3 linked regions of the Homo sapiens genome follow. The protein of the gene in region 2 interacts with the protein of the main gene of each other region in a biochemical or structural test. Each region holds a gene or a part of one and is shown on either strand. Other genes may lie near its edges.

Region 1 (7,723 bases), on a different chromosome or scaffold from region 2:
TAATTATGAAATACATCACTATTTGCATTTTGAATCTCAAAGCATATTAACAGTTAAAATACAGCAATTTTCCATAAGATATATTCAGACCCACAGATGGATAAATGCTAAGATCACTCTGTTTAAAATATGTAGCTTAATGCTTAATAATTGACGGAGCATTAACAACCTTAATTAGCCAAAGATGAATTAATTTACCTCCTTTCTGGTCCCAGTATCCTACAGCTTAAGAACCACAGACTGGTAACAGACAAACCAGAGTTTGAGTCTCTACCCCTTGCTATGTAAATTTGTGTAGATTACTTAGCATCTACATGTTGGAGTTTCCTTAGCCTGTAAAATGAAAACGAAAGTAACACGCCAGGTGCAGTGGCTCACGCCTGTAATCCAAGCACTTTGGGAGGCCGAGGCAGGTGGATCACGAGGTCAGGAGTTCGAGACCAGCCTGGCCAACATGGTGAAACCCTGTCTCTATTAAAAATACAAAATTAGCTGGGTGTGGTGGTACATACCTGTAGTCCCAGCTACTCGGGAGGCTGAGGCAGGAGAATCGCTTGAACCCGGGAGGCGGAGGTGGCAGTGAGCCAAGATCGTGCCACTGCACTCCAGCCTGGGCAACAGAGTGAGACTTGGTCAAAAAAAAAAGAAGATGAAAGTAATAATACCTACCTCACAGAGTTACTGGAGATAAAAAGTAATATATGTAAAGGGCTTGGCACAGCGCCTCCAACATAGTATGTACTCAATAAATGGTAGCTATTAATAATTTGGAATATAGCTTTCATATTAAGAAATAATACAATAACTACTCTACACATCTTTGGTACAAATTTCTGAATACTTAAGTGGAAATTTCCAAAAAGTCATTTCCTTTTTTTTTTTTTGAGATGAAGTCTCACTCTGTCGCCCAGACTGGAGTGCAGCAGCACGATCTCGGCTCACTCCAACCTCTGCCTCCTGGTTCAAGCGATTCTCCTGTCTTCGCCTCCAGAGTAGCTGAGATTAAAGGTGCCAGCCATCACGCCCGGCTAATTTTTATATTTTTAGTAGAGATGGGGCTTCACCGTGTTGGCCAGCCTGGTCTTGGGCTCCTAATCTTTAGTGATCCGCCCACCTCGGCCTCCCAAAGTGCTGGGATTACAGGAATGAGCCACCGCACCCGGCTGTAATTTCCTGTTTTTAATAACATGACACTTTTTTCAATACTACTCTCCTCTGAAAAGATAAAAAGCATTTAGACAAATTATTTATACAACATATGACAGATGGGGTAGAGTGGAAAGACACACAGCTTTAGAGCCAGACAGAACTGAGTTCAAGACCTAATTCAGCCATTTAGTAATCGTGTAACCCGGGCCACTTACAGTTTCTCAACCTTGTAAAGCAAAGCTGTTGCAAGAATTAATAAAATATGTAAAGTATGTAAAGCATCAAGCCCAATATCTAGCACTCAATAAACGGTACTTACTACTATTCTTCTCACCTACTCCTTATAGGGGATAAAAGCAGCTTTGCCAGGGAAGAGGGAAGATATTGGAAAACACAAATACTAGTTTATATTAAGCCAGTGACGAAGGACACTGATTTTACCTGATCAGTGTAAGAACTACAGCCGTGTTTTGGGTGGCATACTCCTTCCAGAATCCAATGAAAACGGAGCCCCTAGCTCCTAGGAAAATTTCAGGAATTTTACAAAACGCTCTATGTCAGGGATTTTTAAGAATCTTTTATTAAGGGGAATACTAGCTAGTTACTTCTGCTTAATTTGCAAAAGTGTGAAAACCTTCACTAGTCTGTTTTGTGACAAAACGTACATTAAGTTAATATTCATAATGAAGCAAGTAAATCCTGCTTTTATTAGACTTCTCGATTTCTAAAGAAACAAAAATATCTGGTGTAAAATATTAGAACTACAAACTACGCTAGAATTAGTTCGAATATTCTCAAATGTGATGCTCAAACACCCTAACACCAAACCAAAAGGAAAAAAGTCCAAAAAGGTAACAAAGCTGGCTGTATCCAATTCTTAGAAAGTCTGAATCAATCCAGGTATCAAATGAACCTCTAACTTCCCAAAACATCTACAAACACCGAAGTCATAATTTGCAAAAACAAAGCTGAGCCAGCAAATAGAAACACTGTTTACTAACTGAACGTAGTTTATCCTTACTTCTCCTCCTTGCATGTAATACTTTTATCCTTTGACTCGGCCTTCTCAAATTCCCTTAGTAAACAATCTCATCAAACTGCTTATTGTAGTGTAAGCATGAAGTCAAAGAGTAGCATAGACTCAGTTCTCCAAATCGCGGGAGCTTTAAGGAGCTTAGCACTAGACCAAGTTTTGCCCCAATGACCTTGGTCTCAACGATTCCCCTCCCTCCCTCCAGCCGGCCCGGCCCTTCCACGTGCTGCCGGCTGCAATTACTCCAGAGGTGGCTGCATGTCAGGGAAGCGCTAGAGGATGCGAATGCACAGGAAACAAGGGTTGCTAACAGCACCCAGGCTGTGCCATCCAATCCCTCCCGACACCAACTCCCCAAGAGCGCTCACACAGCCCTACAAATTTCCCCTACCGAAGCCCTGCGGGGATAACCCCAACTCCTTCCCGGCGCCTTGCTCTGCGACCCAGTCTGTGGGGCAGGGTGTAAGGTGAAGAAATTCTCTTTGCTACACCACTATATTCCCACGCCCGACTGGGGTGCTGGGCAGCCAGGGGAAGGGGACAGCTCCTGGAAGGAGGGGACGACGGCAGGAGGAAAGTAGGCTGAAGAATCCTGCGCCACGCCACCGCCACCTCCTCCTCCACTTCCAGGCTCCCTGCAGGCCCTTGCCAGTCGCCAGCCCAGCGAGCAGCAAGGCCTGGAGTGGCAGGGCCGACCGGGGGCCCGCGAATCCCGGGGTCTGAGGGGCGCGGCGTCCTCACCATCAGAACTTTAGCCGCGTTCTCCAGCTGAGCGATCACTTCTGGGGGCCCCAGCGCCGCCGCCATCATGGTCTCTCTTCAATGACGCGCCATGCGCTGCATTCTGGGAGCGGGCGCCGCGGCCGGCCAATCGCCGCCGCGACCCCGGAGCCTCACGCGCTCCCAGGGCCGTCGCAGCCGCTGTCGACACCGGCGTCGCGGCCTCGGCGGGTCTGGCCGGGCTGCCGGGTTCCGGGTGGCTGGGAGGGGACTAGTGTGAGCCCGGCCGCCGCGCTGGGGCGGGGGCGGCCGCAGCCGGCACCGGGCGAGGCCGAGGCGGTCTGCCCAGACTGCTGCAGCCGCGCGCCCCGCTAAGCTCCCAGCCCCGCGCATGCGTGGTGTCCGGCGCCCCGGCCTCGCGGTGCCCCCGGCCCTCTCCCCACTACCCTAGTACAGCCCGCCCGGGGACCCGCAGATCCACGACGCCAGTTCGCTCCCTCCGTTCTCAGCCCTGCACACCGCCTCCCCTGGCTCCTCCTTGCCCTTCCACGCTCCAGCGCCGTGCAGGATTTCCTAAACTTGGAATCGCTCTTCCCGCTTTCCCCTCCTCAGAGCGCACCTCCTTTCAAAGTATCTCTGTCTCCTGCTTCTCTGTTCCTTCTTGCCATGGGAGAACATTCCAGGATAGAACGCTTCGTTTTCTTTCTTTCTTTTTTTTTTTTTTTGGAGACAGGGTCTCACTCTATCGCCCAGGATGGAGTGCAATGGCCCTATTTCGGCTCACTGCAACCTCCGTCTCCCGGGTTCAAGCGATTCCCCTGCCTCAGCCTCCTGAGTATCTGGGATTACAGGCGCCCGCCACCACGCCCGGCTAATTTTTGTACTTTTAGTAGAGACGAAGTTTCACCATGTTGGCCAGGCTGGTCTCGAACTCCTGACCTCAGGTGATCCGCCCGCCTCGGTCTCCCAAAGTTCTGGGATTACAGGCGTGAGCCACCGCCCCCGGCCGAACGCTTCGTTTTCATAATGGAGGGCTTTGGCCTTCTGCAGGACAATCATCCAAATGTATCTGGGCAGCGGGTCGCTAGGAGACCCTAGGAGGAAAACCCGTCTTTGGCTCTTGCCGTTTTCACTCTTTAAGGGCTGGCTCACATAGGAGAGGGAGAAAGCAGGGACAGGAAAGCCTGACCTTGACTACCTGGCTTCTCAAATGCAGTAAGATGAGCTTTGTCGGCCAGGCGCTGTGGCTCATGCCTGTAATCCCAGCACTTTGGGAGGCCAAGGCAGGCCTCATTTTAGCTCAGGAGTTCGAGACCAGCCTGGGCAACATCGTGAGACCCTGTCTCTACCAAAAAAAAAAAAAAAAAAAGCCCGGTGTGGTGTCTTGCGCCTGTGGTCCGAGCTTCTCGGGAGGCTGAAGCGGAAGGATTGCCCAGGAGGTCGAGAGTGCAGTGGGGCGAGATCACACCACGGCACTCCAGCCTGGGTGAGAGGCTGATCCTGTCTCAGGAAAAAAAAAAAAAAGGACAAAAATCAGCATTGTCGTGTTTGTGGAATCCGTGTTGAAAGGCATATTAGAGTATCAAGTAATTAACCTTCCCTCCGGTGCTCCAGTTGCCTCTAGGACATTCCACGCAAGTGGTCCTGACAGCTGTTTCAGTATTCAAACCAGTGCTGTTAGGTTGTTCGGATCAGGGGTTTGTTTCGTTTTGAGCTGACATCTACGGTCTACATTCCTATAACTTCTTTTTGGTGCTTATTCAGCCTTCTGAAACAACACAGACAGTCAAATTCGTTTCAGTATTTTTAAGTTTATTTTTTGTTGAAATCTTCCTGTTTCTTATTCCTAGTTATAAGAAAGCCATACTGTTGAGGTTTTATGTCACTGCAACAGAATGTCTGTGTGTGTGTGTGTGTGTGTGTGTGTGTGTGTGTGTGTGTGTGTGTGTGTTATGGAGTCTCTCTCTGTCACCCAGGCTGGAGTGCCATGGTGCCATCTCAGCTCACTGCAACCTCTGCCTCCTGGGTTCAAACGATTCTCGTGCTTCAGCCTCCAGAGTAGCTGGGATTACAGGTGTGCACCACTACACCTGGCTAATTTTTGTATTTTTAGCAGAGACGGGGTTTCACCATGTTAGCCAGGCTGGTCTTGAACTCCTGACCTTAGGCGATCCGCTGCCTCAGCCTCCCAAAATGCTGGGATTACAGGCATGAGCCACTGTGCCCGGCCACACGGAACTGCATTATTAGCTCCGTTGGAAAATATGTTGTTTCTTGTACTTGAAGTCTCTGCAACTTGAAGTAGAGAAAATGAATTAACAAGGTTTGTATTGCTTGAGAAACTAAGTAAGTTTTATTTTATTACTGAAGTTTAAAGTGAGCCAAAATGCAGTTAATGGTCCTTTTTAGTAACTAAGTGTTTATCATAGGGCCTGACATATAGTAGGCACTCAGTAAATATTTGACCAAGTATAGCAATCTACAAGAAAATTACAAAATGATTCTAGTTGCTGCAAAGAGTAATTACCAAAGATCAATGATATTGTGCAAATATGTAGATAAACAGTTTGTGACAGTAAATGTTTGAGGCTTATAATGCTTCAGATTGGGCCTTGGGTTCCAAAGTATTTATTTTGTGCAATTACATTAGAACTTTGCAACTACACGTGTTTTAAGAAAGAGGGCCAGGTGCAGTGGCTTACGTGTGTAATCCCAGCACTTTGGGAGGCCCAGGTGGGCGGATCACCTGAGATCAGGAGTTTGAGACCAGCTTGACCAACATGGAGAAACCCCATGTCTACTAAAAAAAAAAAAAAAAATACAAAATTAGCCAGGTGTGGTGGCACATGCCTGTAATCCCAGCTACTCGGGAAGCTGAGGCAGGAGAATCACTTGAACCCAGGAGGCGGAGGTTGCGGAGAGCCAAGATCGCGCCACTGCACTCCAGCCTGGGCAACAAGAGTGAAACTCCATCTCAAAAAAAAAGAGAAGGCCAGGCGCAGTGGCTCATGCCTGTAATCCCAACACTTTGGGAGGCCAAGGCAGGCAGATCACTTGAGGGCAGGCATTCAAGACCAGCCTGGCCAACATGGTGAAACCCTGTCTCCACTAAAAATTAGCCAGGCGAGGTGGCACAGGACTGTAATCTCAGCTACTCAGGAGGCTGAGGCAGGGGAATCGCTTGAACCTGGGAGCCAGAGGTTGCAGTGAGCTGAGATTGTGCCACTGCACTGCAGCCTGGGCAACAGAGAGAGACTCCATCTCAAAAAAAAAAAAAGAAAGAAAAGAAAGAAGTGTTGGATGCGGTGGCTCTCGCCTGTAATCCCAGCACTTTGTGAGGCTAAGGCAGGAGGATTGCTTGAGCCCAGGAGTTCAAGACCAGCCTGGGCAACATAGCGAGACCCCATCTCTACAAAACAATAAAAATTAAAAAATTTGCCAAGTGTGGTGGTGCATGCCTATGGTCCCAGTGACTCAGGAGGCTGAGGTGGGAGGATCACTTGAGCCAGGGAGATAGAGGCTGTAGTGAGCTGTGATTGTGCCACTACACTCCAGCCCGGACCACAAAGTGAGACCCTGCCTCTAAACACAAACAAACAAAAAATAGGCCAGGTGCAGTGGCTCGTGCCTGTAATCCCAGAACTTCCGGAGGCCAAGGCAGGTGGATCACTTGAGGTCAGGAGTTCAAGACCAGCCTGGCCAATGCGGTAAAACTCCATCTCTATTAAGTACAAAATTTAGCCAGGCATGGTGGTGCGTGCCTGTAATCCCAGCTACTCAGGAGGCTGAGGCAGGAGAATCGCTTGAACCCGGGAGGCGGAGGTTGTAGTGAGCTGAGATTGCACCACTGCACTCCAGCCTGGGTGACGGAGTGAGACTACATCTCAAAAAAAAAAAAAAAAGGCCAGGCACAGTGGCTCACGCCTGTAATCCCAGCACTTTGGGAGGCCGAGGCGGGTGGATCACCTGAGTTTGGGAGTTCAAGACCATCCTGGCTAACACGGTGAAACCCCGTCTCTACTAAAAAATTAGCCAGGCGTGGTGGCGGGCGCCTGTAGTCCCAGCTACTCGGGAGGCTGAGACAGGAGAATCACTTGAACCCAGAAGGCAGAGGTTGCAGTGAACCGAGATCGCACCACTGTACTCCAGCCTGGGCGACAGAGACTCCATCTCAAAAAATAAATAAATAAATGAAAATAAAAATAAAAGGGAAGGGATATATTTTTATCAAATGTGAGGATTAATTTGCTTCCTTTCAAATTAACAGTATTTTGAATTTTGAGACTTTATGAAGTGAGGTATAGACATCTCACATAATGAAGCCATGAATTTCAGGGCAGAGCTGAAATTGTAGGATCTCAATGTTGGAAAACACCCTAGAATTTGCCTATCAGTTAACTTTCCTCCAATGCCTGACTCTTGTTATTCCTTGATTTATTATTCAATAACAACACTCTCCTGGGGCAGAGGTGGAGAGGGTAATTGCAGCCTTGTCATACGCTTTTTTTTTTTTTTTTTTTTTTGAGACGGAATCTCCCTCTGTTGCCAGGCTGGAGTGCAGTGGCGCAATCTTGGCTCACTGCAACCTCTGCCTCCCAGGGTCAAGTGATTCTCCTGTCTCAGTCTCCCAAGTAGCTGGGACTACAGGTGCATACCACCGCGTTTGGCTAATTTTTGTTTATTTATTTATTTATTTTTTGATACGGAGTCTCACTCTGCCACCCAGGCTGGAGTGCAGTGGTGTGGTCTCGGCTCACTGCAACCTCCGCCACCCGGGTTCAAGCGATTCCCCTGCCTCCGCCTCCTGAGTAGCTGGGACTA
Region 2 (7,058 bases):
GAAACTAAGAAATGTGAAAGAGCTGAAGAAAAGGACTTGCAGGGAGATCAGAAATAACTATGTAGCTAGAAAATAAGGAAGCCAGAAGAGCACAGAGAGGGATCCAGACACTAGAGAATAATCCAAGATCAATGTCAAGTCAAAAGATGGAAAAACTGATTAAGGAAAAACACCACAAGAAATTCAACAAGAACGAATCAGGTTGAAATTCTAAAGAGACAGGAAAAGTCTGAGGTGATGAGGGAAGTGCTAGCAAGAATGTTAAAACCCATGAAAGCATGGAGGCTCAAGGAACCCAAGGAGAGTGGGATGGGGCAGGTAGGGGCAGTTTGATCCTGCGTCAGAGTTCCAAAGGGAAAGCTAGAACTGGGGAACGAAGCAGCAAGGTGACCTGAAAGCTCAGAATTGACGCAGGAGTCCCTCCAGGGGAAGGCGTAGAATTGGAGAAACCCTGGGCAACGTGATGGAAGCAACCACTTAACAACGGCTCAAGGGAAGAAAGAAAAAGTGAAAACCAAGAATAAGGAAGGAGCAACTGAATAGCTAGAGCATAAAGGCCTATGAATTGAAGAGATTGGCACAAAGCTGGAGAAACGGAGGGACTGCCAGAGAATGATGCGGGGACAGAAGGGTAACCACAGAAGAGGCTGAAGACTGGGGAGCAGGTGTAGTTGTCTGAATGGGTATGAAGGCTGAGCGCTAAACAAAAACAATCAGACAGTAAAAGCAGAGTTAAAGGAAAGTCAGCACTGTTGGCAGCTTGCTGCTGGGAGCGCCAAAGATACTGGAGGCATGGGGAAGGCAAGATGCGGAGGTGAAATTCTAACCTTGGCGTGGCCGTGCTTGCCAGTCTTCGAAGTAGACATCTCGACGATCTTACATGGCCGGCCTTTGAGCACCACAAAGCCATTCTTACGTAATGCTGAGCACTGCATTGGGAAGGTGGCTGAGGCCCCTGCATCTCCTGTCTCGAAGTCCAAGTCATCTGCCATTTTAAGAGGCTTCGATTCCAACTAGAGCCAAGAAGAGAACTGAAGTGAATAAGCATGGAGGTCAACAGGACCTCCAATCTATCCCATTTCTCTCCAGAAACATTTTCCCAACTCTTTATTCCATTACCCACCTAAAATAAAGTCAAAGTTCCTGAACTTAAAATACTGACTGGGCTCAAATATACTCAAGAACTGGTGTGTGTATGGGAGGGTGGAATAGCTGGTTTCTCCCCCATAAATCAAAGCTAAAGTGGTGGCTTGGGAAAGGAAGGCTCTAGGGAGCTGGAATGTCAAATCTCAGAGATGAGAAAAGGCCTACTTCCTGGGAGTGGGGAGGACTCAGGTGTTACTTGCCACTGAAACCAACCACCCCTCTTCCCCACATATAGCCAGGGCTATAATTAGGTGAGCAGCTATGATCCAGCAAAAGGGCAGGGCTAATTGGGGGGGGGGAGGGTGGAGACCGGAGGACAAGGCCCCACCCATCTGTTACACTGCCCCCCCCCATCCACACACAAACCAGTCACTGCTACAGGAAACCACAAGGCCTCTTTGGGGGATTCCCGCCTCGCCAACATGCACTTGCAACAAGCCAAGGGGGAGAAAGCAAAGTTGTTTCCGAAATGATCCCCCTGCCAAACACCTCGATCTTGGTTCCCAAAGAGAACCCAGGAACCCAGCCTCTCCTGGAAGGCCCTCCCACTTTTCCCAGGATGCATCTGTCCTGTCGGCTTTTCAGGCCGGGCCAGTACAGTCAGTAGAAAGTGGGAGAGGTGGGGGGTGGTGAATGACAATAAAATGAAAGCAAAAGGTTGGTAGTAGTGAGTAGTAGAAAATCATACTAGGCTAGTAGAGTTAAGGACTTCGAAACCGTGGAACTCCCAAACCAGTTACAACAGGAAGACAGTGACAAGGTGAAGAACGCCTATCACGGTGGGAAACTCATCTGCCTGAGGCTTTTAGGCGCTGTCCACCCAGGCCGACAGAAAAGTTGGGCTCCTGTCCAAACGCCCTGTTTCCCCATTTCTCCGGCCTCCCAGCTCGAAGGGGTGCCACTTACACCTGGCTGACCGCCACACTTCACAGGAGGGTTTTTCAGGAAAGCTCCTGGGGCCCTTGAGGTTGGGAAGCGCTAACATATGCCTGCAGCAGGCCCTCCGGGGTGATTAGGACCCGAGCCTCCGGCTTCCACTCCTCAAAATCTCAGGCCCCCTCGGAACCCCCGCGAGGACTAGCTCCCCGCGCTAGGGGCTGCCGGCTCCTGCCGACCATGTGGCCGTTCCGGGCTTCCGGTGGCCGGGACCTGGGGGGAGGGGTCCCCGCGCTGCCATGCGGCCCCGGTCCACGCTTGGCCATGCGGCCTGCGACCCCGAGGGCAGCCTCCCGTGGGGGGCACTTCCGGTGCCGCGGCCGCCCCCTCCTCAGAGACTGCGCCAGGCCGGAGCCACGCCGCCTCCCCTCCCCCCGGCCGTCCGCCAACCCCCCCCATCATGCCCTCTCACCGAATAGCCCCCTCCCCCACCTCACGTGGCCGCGCTGAGCCGGGTCCTCAACGGCCCAGGTACCCTTGCCCCGGTGGGCCGATCTGGCCCCTGGCCCTCGCCCCGGCGTGGCCGCCTGGCGGCCTCTCCCGCGTGGCTGCCTCGCGGCTCGCCGTCCCCCGCCCTGCGTCGCTCCAACGTCACCGGGCCAACCCCAACCGTCACCCCGCGCGCCAACCGGGGCGCGCGCCCGCGCCTCTCCTCACCTCGCGCCGCTCTCTGGCCGAACCCGTGCGGCGGCGGCCGCCGCTCCCCTCTGCCCCCTCCCCGACCCCCGCGCAGTTCCATCTTCTCCCGGGCCCAAGCCAAGGTACCGCGCACACGCGCCCTGCCCGCTCTCACCTCGCGCGAACGCACTGACTCGACCCCGTCCGCTCGCCGCGAGCCCAACCGCTGCCTCCGAGCCCGCTGCCGCCGCCGCCGCCGCCTCTACCGCCGCCGCCGCTGCTGCACACGGGTCTTAGTACGCAGGCGCCGACTCCCCACTGACCAACCAAGCAGCCCTATGACAGCCGCGCAAGCGTGCTATCTATCTCCTCCGCCCTCCACCCCCGCACTGCGCAAGCGCACACACCCTACCCATCTCCACCCTCCCTCCCACCGACCCGTCCAATGACGCGCATACGTGACCCCGCCCCTCACAAACCCTGAGCGTTTTCAACTAATCTGCAACGCGCAGGCGCACCCGGTTTTTTAATCTCTTCAACCTCATCTTCCCTCCCCTTGATAGACCGCTCGTCCTACCGGGCAGTCCTTGCGCCTGCGCAATAAGGAGCCCTGCACTCCACACCCTCTAAAGGAAACGCCTGGGTCTCAGAACGCATGCGTGTTCGGAATCCTAAACAACCCCTTCCACCTCAGACGCCGTCAGTACGCCAGGCGTTGAAAAGACCACGCCGCTAGATCACTTGTCTCGTCTAGAACGCATGCGTCTCAGGATACGCCCCACCTCGGCTTTAACTGGACTTAAACGACTCACACGTTTCAGAAAACTTGCTCTGTGGGGTGGGCGCCTTGTCTTGGAATCAGTCCCCCCAGTTCCACACATGCGCGGGAGATGTCTTTCCGCCCCACTCTTCTAGCGCGCTAGTGTGGTCGGGTTCCCACCCATCTCGGCTTCACTTCTCTAAATCGAATGCCTATGCTCTGCCATAGAGTTCACCCGAGAAGATAGAGCGGTCCTGCGGCGGACACCATCTTCTTTAAACCCTCAGTCCGTATTGGTCTCTATGGCATCCATAGAGGCCATTCGGCTCTGAGGTCCTCAGTAAAGAAACTTAGATGGTATTACTGTGTTTTCCCCAACTGTGCTCTGCGGTTCCCCAAAGTATTGTCTACGAGGTCCCTTAGAAAAAATTGTCTATAAAAATGAGTGGTGGGCCGGGCGCGGTGGCTGACACCTGTAATCTCAGCACTCTGGGAGGCCGAGGCGGGCGGATCACCTGAGGTCGGGAGTTCGAGACCAGCCTGACCAACATGGAGAAACCCCGTCTCTACTAAAAATACAAAATTAGCCGGGCGTGGCGGCGCATGCCTGTAATCCCAGCTACTCGGGAGGCTGGGACAGGAGAATCGCTTCTCCTGTGGAGGTTGCCGTGAGCCGAGATTGCGCCATTGCACTCCAGCCTGGGTAACAAGAGCGAAACTCAAGTCTCAAAAACATAAATAAATAATACATAAATAAAATAAAATAGTGGTAGGCCGGGAGCGGTGGCTCACGCCTGTAATCCCAGCACTTTGGGAGGCCGAGGCGGGCGGATCACAAGGTCAGGAGTTCAAGACCAGCCTGGCCAACGTAGTGAAACCCCCGTCTCTACTGAAAATACAAAAAAATTAGCCGGGCGTGGAGGTGGGCGCCTGTACCAGCTACTCGGGAGGCAGAGGCAGGAGAATCGCTTGAACCCAGGAGGCGGAGGTTGCAGTTAGCCGACATCGCACCACTGCACTCCAGCCTAGGAGACACAGCGAGAGACTCTGTCTCAAAAAAAAAAAAAAAAAAAAAAAAGTGGTATGTTAGATTACATTGACATTGTCTTAATCATAGGAGACCATGAAGCTGGAGACGAGCTATCTTCCCAACTTTATTTTCTTTGCCCTCCCTCTCTCCGCCCCCCATTTCGCTTTTCCTGAAACTTCGTAGTCTTCTTCCAATTCCTGGGTTTCTTGCACTACCTTCATGGCTGCCTTGTTGGATAACAAGACTGAAACAAGCGGCCAGGCGCAGTGGCTCACACCTGTAATCCCAGCACTTTGGGAGGCCAAGGCGAGCAGATCACTTGGGTCAGGAGTTCCAGACCAACCTGGCCAACATGGTGAAACCCCGTCCCCACTAAAAATACAAAAATTAGCCGTGCCGTGGTGGTGCGTGCCTGTAATCCCAGCTACTCGGGAGGCTGAGGCAGGAGAATCGCTTGAACCCAGAATGTGGAGATTGCAGTGAGCCGAGATCTCGCCAATGCACTCCAGCCTGCACGACAGAGCAATACGCCATCTCAAAAAAAAAAAAAAAAAAAAAAAGACAGAAACAAGCGACCAAAGATCTTGGGATCTCATCCTTCTTTTGTGTCTTTAAGGAATTACTTCAGATAGCTCTGCCTTAATTTTCTTCCCATAAAATGAGAATAATAATGATGCCTGAACTTCCCAATTTTTCAGGACGTTGCAAAAATTCTGCAACATGGGTTGGGCATAGTGGCTCATACCTGTAGTCTTAGCTTTTTGGGAGGTCAAGGTGGGAGGCTCCCGTGAGGCTAGCAGTTACAGACCAGACTGGGCAACATAACAACGGCCCATCTCTACAAATAAAAAATTAAAAAAACAAAAACAAGAAAAGCTCAGCTCAGTGGCTGGTGCCTGTAGACCTAGCTACTCTTTCTTGGGAGGCTGAGGTGGAGGGATAGCTTGAGTCTAGGAGTTCGAGGCTTCATTGAGCTATAATCCCCACCACTGCACTTGAGCCTGGGCAACAGAGAACCTGTTTCTTAAAAAAGAAAAAAAAAAAGTCTTGTGACACGATACATGTGAACTGCAAACACTAGATTGAATTACTACATTTGTGTAGCCTGTTATGCTAACCCCCAGCTACTTCCCCTCAATTTTCTGAAATTCATGCCCTTTCCTTTGTAAAAAAAAAAAACAAAAACAAAAACAAAAAAACGCAAACAACTTTGTGAGTACATTGTTCAAAAGTCCAACACCTGCTTTTCTCAAAGCAAAGTATGTATTGTTCATGTGACCCAGCAATTCCACTCCAACGTATATATACTCCCAATGAATTAAAAACAGGTACTCAAAGAAAATCCGGGCCGGGTGCGGTGGCTCACGCCTGTAATCCCAGCACTTTGGGAGGCCGAGGCGGGCGGCTCATGAGGTCGGGAGATGGAGACCATCCTGGCTAACACGGTGACACCCCGCCTCTACTAAAAATAAAAAAATTAGCCGGGCCTGGTTGTGGGCGCCTGTAATCCCAGCTATTTGGGAGGCTGAGGCAGGAGAATGGCAAACCTGGGAGGTGGAGCTTGCAGTGAGCTGAGATCTCGCCACTGCACTCCAGCCTGGGCAACAGAGCAAGACTCCATCTCAAAAAAAAAAAAAAGCAAATCCGGGCATGTGAGTGTTCATTAGCAGCAGTTATTCACAGTAGCAAAAAAGGTGGAAAGAACCCAAATGTCTGTCAATAGATGAATGGATTTTTAAAATGTGGTATATCTATACAGTGGAATATTATTTAGCCATAAAAAGAGATGAAGTACGTGCTATAACTGGATGAATATTGGAAAACATTATGCTAAGTGAAAAAAGTCAAGATGCAAAAGGTCACATATTCTATGATTCCACTCTTAGAAAACATCTAGAATAGCCGGGCGCAGTGGCTCACGCCTGCAATCCCAACACTTTGGGAGGCTGAGACGGGTGGATCACCTGAGGTCGGGAGTTTGAGACCAGCCTGACCAACATGGAGAAACCCCATCTCTACTAAAAATACAAAATTAGCCTAGTGTGGTGGCGCATGCCTGTAATCCCAGCTACTCAGGAGGCTGAGGCAGGAGAATAGCTTGAAGCAGAGGTTGCAATGAGCCGAGATCATGCCGTTGTGCTCCAGCCTGGGCAACAAGAGCAAAACTCCATCACACACACACAAAAATTAACCAGGCGTGGTCATATGTACATGTAGTCCCAGCTACTGGGGAGGCTGAAGCAGGAGGATTGCCTGAGCTTAGGAGTTCAAGGCTGTAGTGAGCTGTGATCACACCACTGCACTCCAGCCTGGGTAACAGAGTAAAACCCTGTCAAAAAAAAAAAAAGAAGAAAAGAAAAAAACAGAAATGTTGTACATAAATGTTCAAAGCAACATTATTACTTTTTTTTTTTTTTGAGACGGATTCTTGCCCTGTCACTCGAGCTGGAGTGCAGTGGCACGATCTAGCTCACTGCAACCTCCGCCTCTCGGGTTCAAGCGATTCTCCTGCCTCGGCCTCCTGAGTAGCTGGGATTACAGGCACCTGCCACCACGCCTGGCTAATTT
Region 3 (7,023 bases), on a different chromosome or scaffold from region 2:
TAATGGCTTTCCATACATATCCCAAACATAGGATTTCTGGATTTTATTTTCCTTATAAACTGAATCTGATTCCTTTTACTTCCTTGCTCTTATATTACTTTTTAACTCTGAAAGCCTACAAAGTATGGTACTTTGTTTATAAAATGATAAGAACAATGTATCAGTCACCTATTTTGGAGAAAGTTTTAATACATCTTATAAAGCAGGAAACAGAAAAAGAAGAGAAATTATTATTAATGAAAATATCTACTTGAGGGAAGAAGAGGATTGAACAGAGGACAAATCATTTGCAAAAGACTGATAGTTCACAACTGAGAAACAGAATTAAGTTTTGTATTCTTTTGAAGACACAGAGTCTTGCTCTGTCACCCAGTCTAGAGTACAGTGGCTCAGTCATAGCTCACTATAAACTCAAACTCCTAAACTCAAGCAATCCTCCTGCTTCAGCCTCCTGAACAGCTGGGACTACAGGCATATGCCACCATGGCTGGCTAATTTTTAATTTTTTTGTAGAGATCGGGTCTTGCTATGTTGCCCAGGCTGCTCTTGAACTCCTGGCCTCAGGTGATCCTCTCACCTTAGCCATCCAAGGCACTGGGATTATAGGCATGACCCACTGTGTCTGGCCAAAATTAAGTATTCTTCAATGAGTATCAATACTTAAGGATACCTAATAATACTCCATCAGGATGTTAGCTTCTCAAGGGCAGTAACTTTGAAAGCCTACGAAGTATGGTACTTTGAAAATGGTGCTTTTTAAGATAGCTCCCATCATTATTATGGACATGTGAACTGGCACTCATTTTCAAGGATAACATCATTCTGAACTGAGAAGAAATGCACTCCTTCTACAAAAGTTATGGCTAGGGGTGGTAGGGATAAAGTAGACAAAGAATCTTTCCTTCTTCTCATCTCCTCTAAAATAATGTAATTTCCATTAACTTAGCTTGCTAAAAATCCAGCCTCTGATGGGCCCAGGGAATGGAAAATATGTCCTGATGAATGCTGTCTCTGTAAGGAATCTCACTGAGGTAAATGCCACAGTAAATAGCAAGAACTCAGCTCATATCCTACTGATTGCTGCCCTCTAGGAGGTTTTCCATGATTTACAACAAACTAAAGCCTACTATCCCTTTAGAGTAACTGACCTCGCACCACCAGCAATGGCAGGAAATAAATGGCAAAGGACCACAGATCAAAAATAACTTATCAGTGGATACTTATAACTATCCTTGATTTAATTTCCTCCTTTGATTTGGTGAGCTCTTTTTTTCCATTATTTGAACCAATGTTCTAATATCTGAGCCAAAAGAGGCAAAGAGGGTTTCTTCTAAAGAAAGACAGTAACAAACCATGCCTTCCTTATTATTCTTGGTCACAGATATTATTCAGGGAGTGATGAGCTTCTGAAATTTTTATCTTATAAACCAACCAGTGGCAAAAAGAATGGGGCTGGCCCCAGAGAAAAAAAGCATCCTGGACATGATATATGGCTCCTAAGTTCTATATATCTGATCCTAAGACCAGTATCCAATTTAAGATTCTGAGGTAGTTAAGATATAGTAGATAAGACCCAATGCTTGGGTCTTAATCTTGGCTCTGCTGTTTACTAGCTGTATAACCTTGCAAGTTTTTAAATCTTTCTATGCCTTGTTTCTTTATCTGCAGAATGGTGAACTATCATATCTACTTCCAAAGATATGATGACTATTACAAGAATAAAACACATAAAACATGAATCGTACTAATGAGGTAAATGATCAATAGTTATTGGCAAATATTATTTGGAAGGTCTTGATCATACAAAAACAGGATATGGATATCTAAAATATTTAATGATTACTACACTGAGAAACTAAAAATCCTCCACAGCTGTGAAGCTTGAGTATACCCAGATTAGCCAGGGATGCTTATGCAAAGAAGGTACTTAGGAAAAGATACCCAACCCAGTTTTCTTTTGCTGTAAAAATAACCTTCTAAAATAAAACAGGTACCTACAGGTTTAGGCTTAGGAACAGATCAGTTTAAAAACTGTAGTGTAATTAATATACTTAAAATAAATTGGAGTTAGGAGGTGAAGACCGTAACTTCTCCCCCAATACCTCAAATATTTAATAATAATATAACTTTTTCAATGTCCATTTAAAAAATATCATACATAAATGGAGGCGATTTTGGAAAGCTTGTCATTCGTAATATAAGTGATCTAAAATGAGTAGAACTTAGGTAGAAAGGGAAGTAAAACTGGATTCCTATAAAGAAATCCCACAGTATTCCCTCATGCTGCAACATGGTCGGCTAATACTTATTTGTTCAGAAGAGATGAACTGCAGAATAGGAGCCTTAAAGAGTGAGAATACCAATGAGTGAATGTCTTCTTCAATGTTCAAATCTTCAACAAGAAAAGGTAAATTCAGTGGTTCTCAGACTTTAAAATACACCTGAGATGTTTGTTAAAAATGCCTGTCTCCACCACACTCCCTCATAGTTACAAGAATGAAGAGGCCTATGAGAGATGATTCCAATGCAGGTCATCCATGGACCACATTTTGAGAAAAAGTGAGATAATGCCTTAATTTAACTGCCACTTAATGTTTACTATTTGTATGTAAAAATAGATGCAACATTACCTCATCATTGAGCCAATTCAGATGGTTTAGAGTTTGAATATCTTTGCGTGTAATGGTCAGGCGAAATGCTTCACTGAGAACTTCATCCTGATTCCCATTACGAAATACATTCTTTATTTCTTTCTCCATTTCCTAAGAAAACAAAAGGTGTCAAGACATCAAACACGCGTGGCTTCAGAAAAACCGTATTTCTCACCAAACCCCATATAATCCTCAGACTATATTTATCACCATTCGATTGTTTATAAATTTACTGTTAATCAGTTTACTTCTAACATTTTGGTTTCTATTCCTTCCCAGTAATCCCCGATTACTTCTTTCCACTTCATCTAGTCCTCCCTTCTCTTTTTCAGCACAACATTCAGATCCTTGTTTCCATATTAATTCCTAAAGTCTGGAACAACCTTCCGCTATCAAATTTTCTAAGCACATGAGAAAAATTAACTGTATTTTATATCTCTGGTCCAAATGACTTCCTGAGAAACAGAATTTTTCATAAAAGGTAGTAAGAGAGTAAAGGCAGTATCTTTTAGAAATTACTTTCTTAGAGATCTTTTTTTTTAAATGTAAAGTATGGAATTCAGTACAACTATAATAAGTGTGTTATGCTCACCAGCTACATGGTAGTGTTTCAAAGAGAAGTATGGATAAAGAAACGGATTATCTAAAAATGTACACAGACCTCCATGTATTTTCCAAATTTTCTATAATGGGTTTTATTACTTAAAAAAAGAGCAAATCTCAGCTTACAATTTGAGGTCAAACTATTGTATGTGTGCATTAAGTAAAAATGCACATGACATGAAAGACAAATGTATTAAATGCTTCTTCACTGAAACTGTTAAAAGCCACCCATAGTTCTTTCATAAATTTTCAATATTTTAAAAATAAAGCCCAGATTGGTATATAAAATAAGCGAAAGCTGAAATATACAAGAAAATTTAAATAACACGTGTTCTATGGCTTTTTGTGTGTGTGTGTATGTGAGATGGAGTCTTGCTCTGTCACCCAGGCTGAAGTACGGTGGCATGATCTCGGCTCACTGCAACCTCTGCCTCCCGGGTTCAAGCAATTCTCCTGCCTCAGCCTCCTGTGTAGCTGGGATTACAGGTGCATGCCACCACACCCAGCTAATTTTTGTATTTTTGGTAGAGATGGGGTTTTACCATGTTGGCCAGGCTGGTCTCGAACTCCTAACCTCAAGTGATCCACCCGCTTCAGTCTCCCAAAGTGATGGGATTACAGGCGTGAGCCACCGTGCCTGACCACTATTGCTTTTATGTTTGAAACTCATCCGAGGGATTCTTTCTAAACATGATACTTAGTAGTGTAGAAATTAAGTGTATGTAACTTACCTCTGTAATTTCAGGAAATTCATCTTCACTATCAGTTAATTTATGACCTTTTTTTTGTGTTTCTTGGACAACAGTAACAGGAATCTCCTTTTCAAGAGGTACACGAAGATGTAGTTCTACTGAATCATGTACTGAATGTTCCCGCTCCTGCAATCTCTGAAAGATAAAACTTCAGAGTAAGTGGGATAAAGAAATCTGTGGATGTTCCTTGATTTATGATAGGGTTATGTCCCAATAAACCTGTCATAAGTCAAAGAGCGTGCTTAAATGCCCATTGCTTTCGCTTTTTTGTAAAGTCAAAAAATCATTAGTCGAACCATCACAAGTAGGGGACTATCTATATTTGTCTTATGTACAATGAGTAGCACTGACTGGACAGACCAAGAACATTTACGACATATCATAACATGCTATGCTACCATACGATCTTGGAATTACAACAGCAATTACCCAAATCTGGGTAACTTTCCAAAATAGTTTCTACTTTGATGTACTATTTATTTGTAATATTATTCCAATTTTCTTTTTTACCTGGTTTTGAAGCTGTAAGGCCAATGCCTTCTGTTCTTCAATCTGGCGCAATCTTTCTCGTGCTCGAGAATCATAAACACTAGTTCTAGAAAATGAAAAGGAACGTGACCAAATGTAGACCACTCTCATTATGAAACATATTGTTGATGTACACTGAATATTAAATACAGGACCCTCACAAAGAAAGTCTAAAATCCTTACACTAACTTATCATCCTTATTTTAAGACATAGAGTGAAACCACATAATGTTACTGAAATTACTCTACCATTTTTACTTATTATTTTTTATAGAGATAGGGTCTCACTACAGTGCCCGGGCTAGTCTCAAACTCCTGGGCTCAAGCGACCCCCCTACCTTGGCCTCTCAAAGTGCTAGGATTACAGATGTGAGCCATTGCACCCGACCTATTTTTACTGAAATTACTAAAAATATTAGTGTGCTGCTAAATGTGAACAGATGACTTGTTAACATTTGTAAACACACAGTTCTTTTCTTAACATGCTTTTAAGATTATAGTGAAAGCGAAACTTCAGTCTGGAAATCCAAAAATGGGATTGAACCCTAAAGGAGAAACGAATACAAGATATCACTGAAGTTTAATTCAAATACTTCATTTTTGATAGATTTTTAAAAAATTACCGAGACCGAGGGGTTTGGATAACTTAAGTTCCTTAAGTGAGACTAAATGCTTTCAGTGATTTTGCAAAGTCCAGAAATATGAATTATTCAATAAATTAGTTTTACAAATGCCAAAATAGGATCATTTATTTTCCCTATTATATAATAGCTAACTCTATTTTTCCAATTTAATTTAGCTTCAACAATTGTTATAGATTTAATAAACATAAGTATAGAAATGTTCCAACTCCAACAATATTTTGAAAACCCAACAACTTAAAAGTATAAACAGGCACTTCTTTTTTTTTTTTTTTGAGATGGAGTCTTACTCTGTTGCCCAGGCTGGAGTGCAGTGGCGTGATCTCGGCTCACTGCAACCTCCACCTCCCAGGTTCAAGCAATCCTCCCGCCTCAGCCTTCCAAGTAGCTAGGATTACAGGCGCGTGCCACCATGCCCAGCCAATTTTTGTATTTTTAGTAGAGATGAGGTTTCACCATGAAGGCCAGGCTGGTCTTGAACTCCTGACCTCAGATGATCCACCTGCCTCAGCCTCCCAAAATGCTGGAATTACAGGCGTGAGCCACCGCGCCCAGCCTAAACAGGTACTTCTTATTGGCAAAAAATAAGCAGGATGATTAGCTAATTGTTTGATTTCTTCTAACTAAAAATGAACTGATTGAGAAGGAAAAATGATACCAAAAATAACTTACAATTCTTTGATCCACAGCTCTGCCTGGAAGAAAGTAGAACTATGGGTAGGAAAAGAAAAATTTGACAAATGAGCAGGAGGCTTATGAGAAAATTAAAATATTTTCATCAATAAAAACAATCATTTAAATTGTTTATATGAGTGCTTTACAAGTATGGAATAAGTAAAAGGAATCTAAATGACATAAAATAATTGTAACTAGGAATTAAGGAGACACAATCCTTATGCATACATATTAGTTAAAATCATATGGATACATATTAGTTAAAAAGGTGACCCAAAGTTCAGCAGAGATACTACATTTGGCATAGCTCCCTACTTGCATGAGACCAACATTACGTGAAAGAGGACATCACTTCTCAAAATAATACATTAAGCTAGAACATTGCTCTTCCCAAATGACTCAGATTGAAAGATTTATTAAAAATCCCCACACACAAAATAATCTACATCAAATGGCTAACAAGCCAATGAGCCAAAGCAGAGAATCAGCAACACAACTTCCTTCCAAAGATGACAGGCCAATTCTAGGTCCATGTGGCTCTGCTGACAACCCAAGTGATATGCTGAGCAGAGCCACAGACATGATTAATTGTCCTAGAGCCTCTTGTTTTTCTCAAACTTCCTTATCTCCAAACTCCTAACTAGGCAGGATCTATCACAGAAACACAAAGAAGAAGAGTGAACACTTTTCCAAAGAAAACTATTAAATATAGAGAACAAGTAAACAGAGCATCAAATTGGGAGTTAAGAGACCTGGATCAGAGGCCAGGCATGGTGGCTCATTCCTGTAATCCCAGTGCTTTAGGACGCTGAGGTGGGAGAATCGCTTGAGCCAAGAGTTCAAGACCAGCCTGGGCAACATAGTGAGATTCTGTCTCTTAAAAAAAAAAAAATGATCTGCAACTAGAATAGTGCTTGGCACAGAGTAGGCATTTAGTGTTGTTTGTTTGTTTTTTGACTCTCACTCTGTTGCCCAGGCTGGAGTACAGTGGCACAATCTCGGCTCACTGCAACCTCCACCTCTCGGGTTCAAGAGATTCTCCTGCCTCAGCCTCCTGAGTAGCTGGGATTACAGGCACCCGCCACCACACCTGGCTAATTTTTTCTTTTTTTTATTTTTATTTTAGTAGAGACGAGGTTTCACCATGTTGGCCAGGCTGGTCTCGAACTCATG

What was found. Proteins that work in one complex are often made in the same cells at the same time.
Region 1: the proteins of EIF5A (region 2) and XPO4 form a complex in vitro, tested with the Homo sapiens proteins (one study listed by BioGRID).
Region 3: of the proteins of EIF5A (region 2) and SENP1, one has a biochemical effect on the other in vitro, tested with the Homo sapiens proteins (one study listed by BioGRID).

What each region holds. Positions count from the first base shown.
Region 1 is NC_000013.11:20,899,747-20,907,469, forward strand, and holds the start of XPO4 (exportin-4), read right to left. Parts: upstream 3,001-7,723; 5' UTR 2,993-3,000; coding exon 2,924-2,992; intron 1-2,923. UniProt on the Homo sapiens protein: Mediates the nuclear export of proteins (cargos), such as EIF5A, SMAD3 and isoform M2 of PKM (PKM2). In the nucleus binds cooperatively to its cargo and to the GTPase Ran in its active GTP-bound form.
Region 2 is NC_000017.11:7,303,570-7,310,627, reverse strand, and holds the start of EIF5A (eukaryotic translation initiation factor 5A-1), read right to left. Parts: upstream 3,001-7,058; 5' UTR 2,876-3,000; intron 2,660-2,875; exon of another isoform or gene 2,495-2,659; intron 2,256-2,494; exon of another isoform or gene 2,053-2,255; intron 1,658-2,052; exon of another isoform or gene 1,513-1,657; intron 1,014-1,512; coding exon of another isoform or gene 993-1,013; coding exon 828-992; coding exon of another isoform or gene 341-827; exon of another isoform or gene 1-340. UniProt on the Homo sapiens protein: Translation factor that promotes translation elongation and termination, particularly upon ribosome stalling at specific amino acid sequence contexts.
Region 3 is NC_000012.12:48,061,080-48,068,102, forward strand, and holds part of SENP1 (sentrin-specific protease 1), read right to left. Parts: intron 5,887-7,023; coding exon 5,848-5,886; intron 4,602-5,847; coding exon 4,517-4,601; intron 4,142-4,516; coding exon 3,986-4,141; intron 2,763-3,985; coding exon 2,631-2,762; intron 1-2,630. UniProt on the Homo sapiens protein: Protease that catalyzes two essential functions in the SUMO pathway.